Homo sapiens: one gene and its partners. The protein of the gene in region 2 purifies or fractionates together with the protein of the main gene of each other region. This does not show direct contact. Each region holds a gene or a part of one and is shown on either strand. Other genes may lie near its edges.

What was found.
Region 1: the proteins of FBXO42 (region 2) and ESYT2 purify together in Homo sapiens (affinity purification with mass spectrometry, with the first as the bait; one large-scale study listed by BioGRID). This does not show direct contact.
Region 3: the proteins of FBXO42 (region 2) and PPP4R1 purify together in Homo sapiens (affinity purification with mass spectrometry; one large-scale study listed by BioGRID and IntAct). This does not show direct contact.

What each region holds. Positions count from the first base shown.
Region 1 is NC_000007.14:158,826,685-158,831,128, reverse strand, and holds the start of ESYT2 (extended synaptotagmin-2), read left to right. Parts: upstream 1-1,619; 5' UTR 1,620-1,710; coding exon 1,711-2,040; intron 2,041-2,108; exon of another isoform or gene 2,109-2,947; intron 2,948-4,444. UniProt on the Homo sapiens protein: Tethers the endoplasmic reticulum to the cell membrane and promotes the formation of appositions between the endoplasmic reticulum and the cell membrane. Binds glycerophospholipids in a barrel-like domain and may play a role in cellular lipid transport.
Region 2 is NC_000001.11:16,345,894-16,349,540, reverse strand, and holds part of FBXO42 (F-box only protein 42), read left to right. Parts: intron 1-3,647. UniProt on the Homo sapiens protein: Substrate-recognition component of some SCF (SKP1-CUL1-F-box protein)-type E3 ubiquitin ligase complex. Specifically recognizes p53/TP53, promoting its ubiquitination and degradation.
Region 3 is NC_000018.10:9,552,047-9,555,693, reverse strand, and holds part of PPP4R1 (serine/threonine-protein phosphatase 4 regulatory subunit 1), read left to right. Parts: intron 1-2,271; coding exon 2,272-2,372; intron 2,373-3,647. UniProt on the Homo sapiens protein: Regulatory subunit of serine/threonine-protein phosphatase 4. May play a role in regulation of cell division in renal glomeruli. The PPP4C-PPP4R1 PP4 complex may play a role in dephosphorylation and regulation of HDAC3.

The DNA of each region.
Region 1 (4,444 bases), on a different chromosome or scaffold from region 2:
TCCTACAATTTTCCAGTAGAGGAAAGCTGCAAAAGAAAGGCTCAGGCTCCTTTCTGTGTCAACAAAGCAATTACTTGCTTTTGTGTTGAGGCTTAGTTTTGAATGAAAGGTGGTGTTAGGAGCATTAACCGGTTGCATATTTACAATCTACATAATATAATTTGTTGCTGCAGCAAACCAGGGACTGTGAAGAGTAAGAAAAGGGAAACCACTTCCATTCCTTGCTTGGGGTTTACTGCCCTTGCCTGGAGTTGAGAGTTTAGACTCTGCAATGTTTTACATATGTGATATAATCTCCACATACATATGCACACAAAATTATGAAGACGCAGGAACGAGGGGAGACAGATTCCTATGTAAAGGTGACCCTGCTTCTTCTGGGCATTTGTTTATTCATTCAGTACCTGCCAGTGCCCTACTCTGTTACAAATTCAGTAAAAATTTCCTTGGAATTCACTGAATATGCTCAAAAACAGTCAAGTAGGATGTTCTTTGCTACTGTTTGGCTTGGAGTTTCCTTGAAAGAAACTACAGAACAAATATAATTAACTCGATTGAATTCACTGGAAAGTAAAGTGATCAATAGTTGTGTTTTTGAGTTAACTGAAAAGTGACCTCAGGAATCACAGGAAAGGCCCAAAATTAGTCGTTTGAAACAGCTATTCATAGTTGGCCACAATATTAACACCTTCGGCGAAGCTGCGTGGTGCCCGGGGTGGAGTTCCCGAGTGTCAACAGCGTCCCTTGGGCGCTTGCGGTGGTCTTTGCCCGGCACTACCAGACCCCTCAGGGAGGACTTTTGGGATTAAAGGCATCTTAAAAGCCAACTGAACTGTGTGAGAGTTGTCAAGGTCACAACGGAGTCGTTTGTGTTTAAAACCCTGACAAGCAGGGTGGGAAGGGCCCCAGAGGCAGCGTTCTCACGCCGGAATGCCCGATAACAAGACCGTCCCGAGAGACTCCGCAAAAGCCACAACCTTGCACACTGGCTAGGCAACCTCACACCGAAAAATACCGGAGGACTCCCGCCAGCGGCGCCCGTCCGACCTCCGGCGGGCGGCGCCCTCTCACCCGTCCTCCTGGCCGCAAAATGACCGCAAACAGGGACGCCGCCCTCTCATCCCACCGCCACCCCGGCTGCGCTCAGCGGCCGCGCACCCCCACGTTTGCCAGCAGCTCCCAGAGGCGGTCAGCCTTTGGGTTTGACGACGGCAACTTCCCGGGCCTCGGCGAGCGCAGCCACGCACCCGGAAGCCGCCTCGGGGCGCGACGCCGAGCCAAAACCGCCCGCGGGCTCCGAGGCCACAGGCAAGTGGGGAGGGTGCCCCGTGGGGCTCGAGGGGACGCAGGCACGCCCAGCCCACGCACCGAGCACTCTCCTTTCCCGTCCCCGGCTCCCGCCAGCCGAGACACAACGCTCGCGTGATGACGTCGTGCGCCTGCCCGGCCCACTCCAGTAGTCTCCGACCCGGCCCACGGCCCGCCCCGCGCGATGACGTCAGTATCCACCCCGCCCGCTCCCGGTGACGTGCCAGCCCCAGGCCCACGCCGCTCCCGCCCCGCGTGATGACGCCACCGTCCCGGGCGGAGGCGGGCGTGCGGCGGAGCCGCGTCCCCTCAGAGGGGCGCTGGCGCGGGGCTGAGCCGCCCGGGATCAGCGCGAGCACCCAGCCCGCCTCGGCCGGGAGGGCAGCGCGGCACTGCGGGGCGATGAGCGGCGCCCGGGGCGAGGGCCCGGAGGCGGGCGCCGGCGGGGCTGGGGGCCGCGCGGCGCCTGAGAACCCCGGGGGCGTGCTGAGCGTGGAGCTGCCCGGGCTGCTGGCGCAGCTGGCGCGGAGCTTCGCGCTGCTGCTGCCCGTGTACGCGCTGGGCTACCTGGGGCTCAGCTTCAGCTGGGTTCTCCTCGCGCTCGCGCTGCTCGCCTGGTGTCGCCGCAGCCGCGGCCTCAAGGCCCTGCGCCTGTGCCGCGCGCTGGCGCTGCTGGAAGACGAGGAGCGCGTCGTGCGCCTGGGGGTGCGCGCCTGCGACCTGCCCGCCTGGGTGAGTGCAGACCCCTGCCCGTCCCGACCCCTGACCACCAGTCCCGATCTCCCCTCGTCCAGGCAGGCACTCCCCTCCCCGCGACCTGCCGCCTGGGTGAGTGCAGACCCCAGCCCTGCCCCGGCTCCCGCCTTCGTAGTCCCCCACCCACCCCGGTCCAGGCAGGCGCTTCCCTTCCGCCTGGGCGAGTGCAGACCCCAGCCCCGGCCCCCGGGCCGGTTCCTGCGACCTGCCAACCTAGGTGAGTGCAGACCCCGCCCCGCCCCCCGGCCCCGACTCCCAGCCTGCTGGCGACCTGCCCGCTAGGGCGAGTGCAGACCCCAGCCCCGCCCCGGCCTCCGGCCCACTCCCTGCGAACCTGTCCGCCTGGGGCCGCCGCCCGCTGCTCGCCGCTCCCGCCCTAGTCCTGAGTGCTCCGTGCCCTCCCTCCGTCCAAGTCGGGCGTCCCCTTCTCCGCTTCCCCGCCCGCCCAGGCTCCGGGTCCGGGGCGCGTCTGCCCTCGTGAAGCCTCCCCTCGCCGTCCCGCGCGGCTTTCTCGGAGACCCCTCTTCACAAAGCCCGCTTCCCTCCCCCGGCCTGCAGACCCCGAGCGCCAGCGGCAGGTACCGGGCTTGGCGCCCCCTCTTCGGCCGCGGCCCTGCCCGGAGCGCGCGCTTCCTCCTGGTGCCGCCCGCGGGGTCTCCTTAGGGGCCTGAGCGGCCGGTTCTGCTCTCAGAGCGCCCAGCGCGATTCTCGTGCGCATTCCCAAAGCCCTGCCGGCCTGGAAATGCTCCGGGTGGCTTCAGCTTTTCCTTCTCTCTGTTTTTTAAAAAACGTAATGACAGCTGGTGGGGGAGAAGTTAACTTTTTCTTCTACCGGGAGAAGACGCACTCGTGTCTTGGTTGTTTCTGACGCATTTCAAGGGCAGTAAGTGTCTCTCGAAAGATGTGGAGATATTAGATAATTGAAAGATTGTTTCAGTTTTTTTGCAAGTATAATTGTGAGACTGAGCATTTTTATATGGGATCGACCTGAATCCAGTGTGAATGTGTGTGTGTGTGGCAGGAAGTTTTGGAAGAGTTGCAGCAATAACAAGAGTCATGGTATTATTTTATTTTTAACCCGGCAGTTCTCTACCTCGTATATTTATGGACTATAGACACGAAGAGTTGGCTTCAAATCTTTTTCTTGTCATTCCCTAATTCTTTCTTAGCCATGACTTGGCTTCACAGTTTCACACTGCAAGAAAGGATTTTAATGATTCTTCCATTAGGCTTAATATAAACTTTGGGGTGAAGGTGACCAGCAGTGGGTTTCGGAAGGGTCATTTTCTCTTAGAGGAGAAAAGTCCCTGTTTCCAGTCATGAGACACCTGAGAAGTAAGGCATGACACAGATGGCAAACAAGAATTAGAAAGGAGGCGTGCCCAAGACAAGAAGAAGGTAGTAGATGCTACTTTGTGACGTCATATTGCAACTGGAGTAAGAATATAATGTAAGGAGCTTGGGAATGTACAGTTCTGCCGATGCGTGGTGAGCATGAGGGAGTCATATTTGGAGAACCAAGGTAACTGGCATGGTGCAGCTTTTAGCTAGCGGCGGGAAAAACCGAGGGGTGTGTAGAAAAAGGAAGTTAAGAGGAACCGAGGTGGGGAAAACTAAGAACAGAGGAGGTGCACTTTGGAAATGGAAAAGGACTTTAAAGTGACGTTTTGTGTCTATATTACACTAAGATGCATAATACTAAAAAGTAGCTAAAAACAGAGTCCATTAGCATCCATTGCTATGTTATATTGATAACATAGCAATGTTATCAGTGCTGAAATTTGCAGGAAGTGATGATGCTGACTTTCATAGATACTTGGTTATTGGCTAATATCAAATTTGCTTGTTAAAAATCTTTGTGAAACACAGATTTTCTTTTTCTTTTCTTTTTTTTTTTTTTTTGAGACAGAGCCTCTCCCTGTTGCCCAGGCTGGAGTGCAATGGCGTGATCTCGGCTCACTACAACCTCCGCCTCCAGGGTTCAAAAGATTCTCCTGCCTCAGCCTCCCGAGTAGCTGGGATTACAGGCGTGCACCATCACGCCCAGCTAATCTTTGTATTTTTAGTAGAAACAGGGTTTCACCATGTTGGCCAGGCTGGTCTCAAACTCCTGACCTTGTGTTCCGCCTGCCTTGGCCTCCCCAAGTGCAGGGATTACAGGCGTGAGCCACCGCGCCCGGCCACACAGACTGTACAGATGAAATTGCTGCCCTATTGAAGAACTGAAATTTTTTTTTTTTTTTTTGAGACGGAATCTCGCTCTGTTGCCAGGCTGAAGTGCAGTGGCACCATCTCAACTCACTGCAACCTCCGCCTCCCGGGTTCAAGCCATTCTCCTGCCTCAGCCTCCCGAATAGCTGGGACTACAGGCGCACACCAC
Region 2 (3,647 bases):
AAATAAAGCCCTTCCCACGATTGTTAATGTGGATCAGAAAAGATAGTGTTCGTGAAAGTGCTTTGTAAAATGTAAAATAAAAGGTAAATGTAAAATTGATTATTCCTATTTATGAACCACCTACTGAGGGCCCTCCATATGGCGGGTGTTTTGGGAAGTAGGTACTAATTTAAGACAGCTTTTGGTCTGAAGTTGCATATAGTATGGCTGGGGAGCCAGACAAGGAAACCCGTTAAGTGCTATGTAGTGTTAAGAAGTGCACTGAATCCAACCAAGAGAGTCAAGGAAGGCTTCTTGGAGCAGGGATGGCTTTTCCCCAACCTTTCCTATTATTCTGCAGAGTCTGCCTTTAGTGAGTGACTTGCTTTTTATAAAAACTTGAAAAAAAATTCTGTCATGGGTTCTTTTCCCCTTTTATTCATTCACTGTCATGACAGTTCCCACACAGTATGCCCCAGTTATGGCTTCTGCATTCTCAAAAATCCAGCAGTCTTGGGAAAACCTTTCTATATGAGTCATATACACAGGCAACAAACACAAACATTGCAGCTGCAATTAAAATATCTCAGATTACTAAGTGGTGACAACTTTAGAGTGATGATGCTTTTTTGTTTTTGTTTTGTAAACTAGTACAAGAGGCACTGTGTTTTTAATTTGATGACAATTAATACAGTAAATATTTAATTGTTATTCCTTACAATGTTGATTATAGGTGGTTATTAGTACTGTCTCCTTTTTCCCAACAATAAATAAAATGAGAAGATCTTAATTCCTTTTTGATTGAAGCTGACCGCTTAAGTGAGAATTACACTAAACTTTCTTTTTCTTTTTTATTTTTTTGAGACCAAGTCTTGCTCTATCGCCTAGGCTGGAGTGCAGTGGCGCAATCTCTGCTCACTGTAACCTCTACCTCCCGGGTTCCAGCGATTCTCCTGCCTCAGCCTCCCGAGTAGCTGGGAGTACAGGCACCCGCCCCACGCCCGGCTAATTTTTGTAGTTTTTTTTTAGTAGAGGTGGGATTTCACCATATTGGCCAGGCTGGTCTCGAACTCCTGACCATGTGATCCGCCCACCTTTGCCTCCCAAAGTGCTGGGATTACAGGCTTCAGCCACCGCTCCCGACGAATTACACTAAACTTTTATAGAATCTATGTGGATTGGTGTTGCTAGTAGCTTTGATATTGAACTTCTGTATCCCAGTACAAGTTATTTACCTTAGTGCTGTAGTTGTTGTACAATTAATTTAGCGTGTTGTTGCCTATATTGCAAAAACTTCGAATTTTTGGATTGAGTGAAATTTTTATGTGGCACTGTATTATTGAACATATACCATCTGTATCTTAACTGAAAATGAGTGATCTAAAGTTGCGGCTGATGGAAAAGTGAAGGTGATGTGTTCAGTTTTCTATAATGTGACAGCTTGCTACATGTACAAGGATATGACTTACAGACAAGTCATTTAAAAATTGTCCAGCATTAAGCTTATAATATAGCTTATGACTTATAGGCAAGTCTTTCTTTTCTTTTTTTCTTTTTTTTTTTTTTTTTGAGACGGAGTCTCGGGTCTGTCGCCAGGCTAGATAGAGTGCAGTGGCGCGATCTCGGCTCACTGCAAGCTCCACCTCCCAGGTTCACGCCATTCTCCTGCCTCAGCCTCCCGAGTAGCTGAGACTACAGGCGCCCACTACCACAGCTGGCTAATTTTTTGTATTTTTAGTAAAGACAGGGTTTCACTGTGTTAGCCAGGATTGTCTCGATTTCCAGACCTCGTGATCTGCCCGCCTCGGCCTCCCAAAGTGTGGGGATTACAGGCGTGAGCCACTGTGCCTGCCTAATTTTTGTATTTTTAGTAAAGATGGGGTTTCAACATGTTGGCCAAGCTGGTCTGGAGCTCCTGATCTCAGGTGATCCGCTGGCCTTGGCCTCCCAAAGTGCTGGGATTACAGGCGTGAGCCACAGTGCCCTGCCTGAAATTTCTACTTTTTAATTTGTAAAGTTGTTTGTTTGTTTGTTTGTTTGTTTGTTTTGAGAGGAAGTCTCTCTCTGTTGCCTAGGCTGGAGGGCAGTGGCGCCATCTTGGCTCACTGCAACCTTTGCTTCTGGGTTCAAGTGATTCTCCTGCCTCAGCCTCCTGAGTAACTGGTATTACAGGTGCACACCACCATGCCTGGCTAATTTTGTATTTTTAGTAGACACGGGGTTTCACCATGTTGGCCAGGCTACTCTCGAACTCCTGTCTTCAAGTGATCCACCTGCCTCAGCCTCCCAAAGTGCTAGGATTACAGGCATGAGCTACTGTGCTGGCCTGTAAAGTTTTTTTCTGAGTTTTTAATTTTTTCCAGTGTTTTGCTTCAAAGGTGGATGTATCTTGTGATGCTTTGATGCGCACACACACACACAGATAAGTGTATTTATATATGTACACTATATAAATCTGATAAATGTATAGTTATTATATATGGCAATAGTCACTTTTAAAATTGTACTATTCTGACAGGCCGGGTGCGGTGGCTCATGCCTATAATCCCAGCACTGTGGGAGGCTGAGGTGGGTGGATCACTTGAGGTCAGGAGTTCAAGACCAGCTTGGCCAACATGGTGAAACCCCATCTCTACTACTAAAAATACAAAAATTAGTGTGTGCCTGTAATCCCAGTTACCTAGGAGGCTGAGCCAGGAGAATCACTTGAACCCAGGAGGCAGAGGTTGCAGTGAGTTGATGTCCCTCCACTGCCCTCCAGCCTGGGCGACAGAGTGAGACTCTGTCTCAGAAAAAAAAAAAAAAAAATGTACTGTTCAGTACAGTAATTTAGCTTAGTAACTTATTTTCTCTTGTTTTTTTTTTTTTTTCCCCGAGACGGAGTCTAGCTCTGTCGCCCAGGCTGGAGTGCAGTGGCGCAATCTCGGCTCACTGCAAGCTCTGCTTCCCGGGTTCACACCATTCTCCTGCCTCAGCCTCCTCAGTAGCTGGGACTACATGCGCCCACCACCACGCCCAGCTAATTTTTTGTATTTTTGGTGGAGACGGGGTTTCACTGTGTTAGCCAGGATGGTCTCGATCTCCTGACCTCATGATCCGCCCGCCTCGGACTCCCAAAGTGCTGTGATTACAGGTGTGAGCCACTACGCCTCGCTCTCTTATTTTCTAGTAATAAATAGATTTGAAGTAGTTCATTTAATTTCTATAAAGGCAAGCGTGTTTTGGTTTTAGCTGGTAATGTTCCCTTAGAATATTTTCTATTTAGGATACTTTCAGTTGTTTTAAGGAATTCACTAGTATGGGGGTAAACGCACTTTCAAATGTTTCCTTTATTGATCTCTAATAAGGTAGGGTGTTTACTTTTTTGCTTTTCATTATAAATTTCTTCGTAAAGAATTGGTGAAGTGGTCACCTCAGTGGTAGCAAATAAGTTTCCTTGCTACTTTCTGTATCACTATATTGTACATGGATTTTAATTTATTCATTATTTTACACTTCGTTCTCACCATTAGTCGTTCTGACCCTGAAATTTGGCCAGCATAAGCCTCCTTAAGTTGGTAGTGTGTCCTTCTGATATGTCACCTTTGGTCTTGGAGTGCTTCCTTATTTTTTGTCACAACAAGCTATCCCGGATTCACCTTGTATCTACCTGTCATTGAAGTGAAATT
Region 3 (3,647 bases), on a different chromosome or scaffold from region 2:
GAATTACCCTCAATTTGAATTTACACAATTTGATTCTGAGTAAGCGGGGTTTTTTTGCAGACATGTTAACCTGTGTAGGTTGTCATGTATTTTTCTGAATGTGCCACATCAGGGCTAATGTGGTGTTGGCTCTTCCCATCATTGGTGACGAGAAGGCTGACAACTCCATTGTAAAATGACCTTTTACCTTTTGTGGTTAATAGAGAATTGGTGAGGTGATACTTTAGAACTCTGAATATCTTTTTCTCTAGAGTCCTTCACCAGTGCTCTCATATCCAGGCATCTATACATGGTTCTTACCTGAATCAGTTAACTGTGTTGGTTGTGAAAGAGTGATTTTCTATTTTCATAATTCTTTCTGTTTTTTTTTAATTAATTAACTTACTTATTTTGAGACAGGGTCTCACTCTGTTGCCCAGGCTGGAGTGTAATGATGCAATCATGGCTCACTGCAGCCTCCACCTCTCCCAGCTCAGATGATCCTCCCACTTCTGCCTCCTGAGTAGCTGGGGCCACAGGCGCACCACCACGCCCAACTGAGTTTTGTATTTTTTGTAGGGATAGGGTTTCACTATGTTGCCCACACTGGTCTTGAACTCCTGGGCTCAAGTGATCTGCCCCGCCTTAGCCTCCCAAAGTTCTGGGATTACAGATGTGAGCCACTATGCTGGGCCATTCCTTCTGTTTTTATTAAGTAACATTCCCATGTAAAAATAACCTGTGCCTTCTCTCCTTCCCCGGTTTCGAAAGTTATTTTAGTATTAGTGGGGACTCTAGGATTTTAAAAATTCAACATAATGGAATCCATTTCTGTCATTTGTTTTGAGCATCAAATTTGACTAGTGGAGACCCCTTAAAGCTGCCTCTTGTGTCCTTTGATTTGTCCTTTGATTTTTAAGTGCATCAATACTTTCAGTTTCAACTTTCCCTTTCCCTGTCCCAGCCTGGAGTCAGCTATTTCTCCAAGGAACTGTGGTCCTTTTTAGTGGAGAATGGTCCTTAGAAACTGAGATCCAGGCACTGGAAGTGCTCATTGCTCCTGGCCTGTCATTTCTTTTAGGTCTTTTCAGGAGATAGTAGCTAGGAGGTGTAGATAGTAGCTAGGAGGTGTGATGCTTTTTTTTTTAATTAAATTACTAACTTCATATTGTTATGAACTGCTTCCAATTCAATACCGTTTTCTCTCTTCACTTTATATATTTTTTTCTTTTTACTCCTGGTAAAAAGTCTGTTCTTAGTAACATTAATGTGTAATATTTAGTTGTGGCTGGGCACAGTGGCTCACACCTGTAATCCCAGCACTTTGGGAGGCCAAGGCGAGCGGATCACCTGAGGTCAGGAGATCGAGACCATCCTGGCTAACACGGTGAATCCCCGTCTCTACTAAAGATACAAAAAATTAGCCGGGCGTGGTGGCATGCGCCTGTAGTCCCAGCTACTCGGGAGGCTGAGGCAGGAGAATCGCTTGAACCTGGGAGGTGGAGGTTGCAGTGAGCCGAGATCCCGCCACTGCACTCCAGCCTGGACCACAGAGTGAGACACTGTCTCAAAAAAAAAAAAAAAAAATTAGTTGTTTGCTGAGTTCCACAACATAAATGAAATAGTTTCAGAATTACTCCACCAATAATAATTCCCACATCAAATCAACTACATAATATTCAGGACTTCCTAGCACATTCTGTCCTTAGAACGTCCCTTGAAGATGTATGGTCAAAGTAGTCAGTTCACACTTTGGCTTTTTTCCCTGTGTGATTGTTTTCCATCTGATGCACAGTTAGGTTGGTTTGCTTCCGTTTATAAACTTACCTTTAAATATTTATAGAGCAGCTATTGGGATACATTTATTTTTTTTCTCTCAACAAATACTGAATGCCTACTCTGTGCTGTCACAGCGTCACACGCAGGGCTTACACACGTGGTTAAGAGCATAATTACTGCCTTAAGCGGGGCCATGGCAACAAGGATGTCATATGAATAAAGGGGGCAAGCCCTGTAATCAGGCTGTGCCCGGGGTACTGTGGGGTTTAGCGTGGCTCATTGATAGGCACAAGGAACAAAGATTTCCAGACAAGATGGTGATTCCTGAAGGCAAATGGAATTATTCAGGGAAAAATAAACTTAATACCAAATTTTAAAACACTTAAATACAGCTACTACATTTCCTCTTCAGAAGAATTAACCATATTGCTTACAGTCTGTTTTTAAGCACTCTAGTAAAAGAAATACTGTCTGTACCTTGTCCTGGTAAATATTTTTATTTTGTTACTTTAGCTTCTTCATATTGACAAAAGAAGAGAATATCTTTATCAACTTCAGGAGTTTTTGGTGACAGATAATAGTAGAAATTGGCGGTTTCGAGCTGAACTGGCTGAGTAAGTTCTAACAGTTTATTAGATTATGTTTTGGAGGGGTATATATTTACTTCATTTTTACATTTTCTCAGTTTCTTCATTACTTTGTGTAGATCCAAGTTTCTATGTGGTATTCTAGCCCTTTAACGCTTCCTGTAATATGTGTCTTACTGTCAGTGAATTTCCTCAGCTTTTTTATTTTTTCTTGAAAATGTCTTTAGTTCATCTTTATATTATTTTTATCATGGTGAAATACACATAGCCAAATTTGCTGTTGATGACATTTAGTCCATTCACAGTGTTGTGGAACCATTCCCTCTATCTAGTTCTGAAATGTTAACCTCCCGAAAAGAAAAACCCATGCCCAATAAGCATCTACTATCTATGGATTTGCCTGTTGCGGACATTTCATGCAAGTGGAGTCATATAACACATGGCCTTTTGTGCTTGGTTTCTTCATTTAACAATGTTTTCAGTTGTCCTCCATATTGTATCCTCTAGCTGAACCTGCCTTCCTTTTTGTGGTTGAGTAATATTCCATTGTATGGATATACCACATTCGTTTAGGGCATTCATCTGTTGAGGAACATTTGGGTTGGGGGTGTGGTCTTTTGTGAATAGTGCTGCTAGGAACGTTTATGTACAAGATTTAATATTTGAAATCTGTTTTCAGTTCTTTTGAGGTGAATTTGCAAGGCCATATGGTAATTCTGTGTTTAATTTCTTGAGGAACTGCCAAAACTTTTCCACAACAGCTATACCATTTTACATTCCCATCAGCAATGTATGGGAGTTCCAGTTTCTCTGTCTCCTCACTAACACCTATTTTTCTACTAAATTTTAAAAATATTTCTAAATTGGCCAAATAATAATTGTGCATATTTGTGAGGTATGTAATGATGTTGCAATACGTATCGGATAGTGGTCAGATAAGGGCAGTTAGCATATCCATCACTCGCTTATCATTTACAGCTGTTCTGATGGGCTTGGAACAGCACTTCATTGTGGTATGATTTGCATTTCCCTAATGACTAATGATGTTGAACACTTTTCCATAAGCCTGTCAACCATTTGTGTATATTTTGTGGAGAAATGTCTATCCAAGTCTGTTGCACATTTTTAAATTGGATTATCTTAAGTTGTGTTGTTGAGTTGTAAGAGTTCTTTATATATTCTGGATTATAGACCTCACCTGCATTTTCAAATGATGTCTTTGCTGAGTATGGAATGTGGGGCTGACAGTTTGTCTTTCAGTATATTAAAGATGCCACTCCATTGAGTTCTGGCTTGCCCACT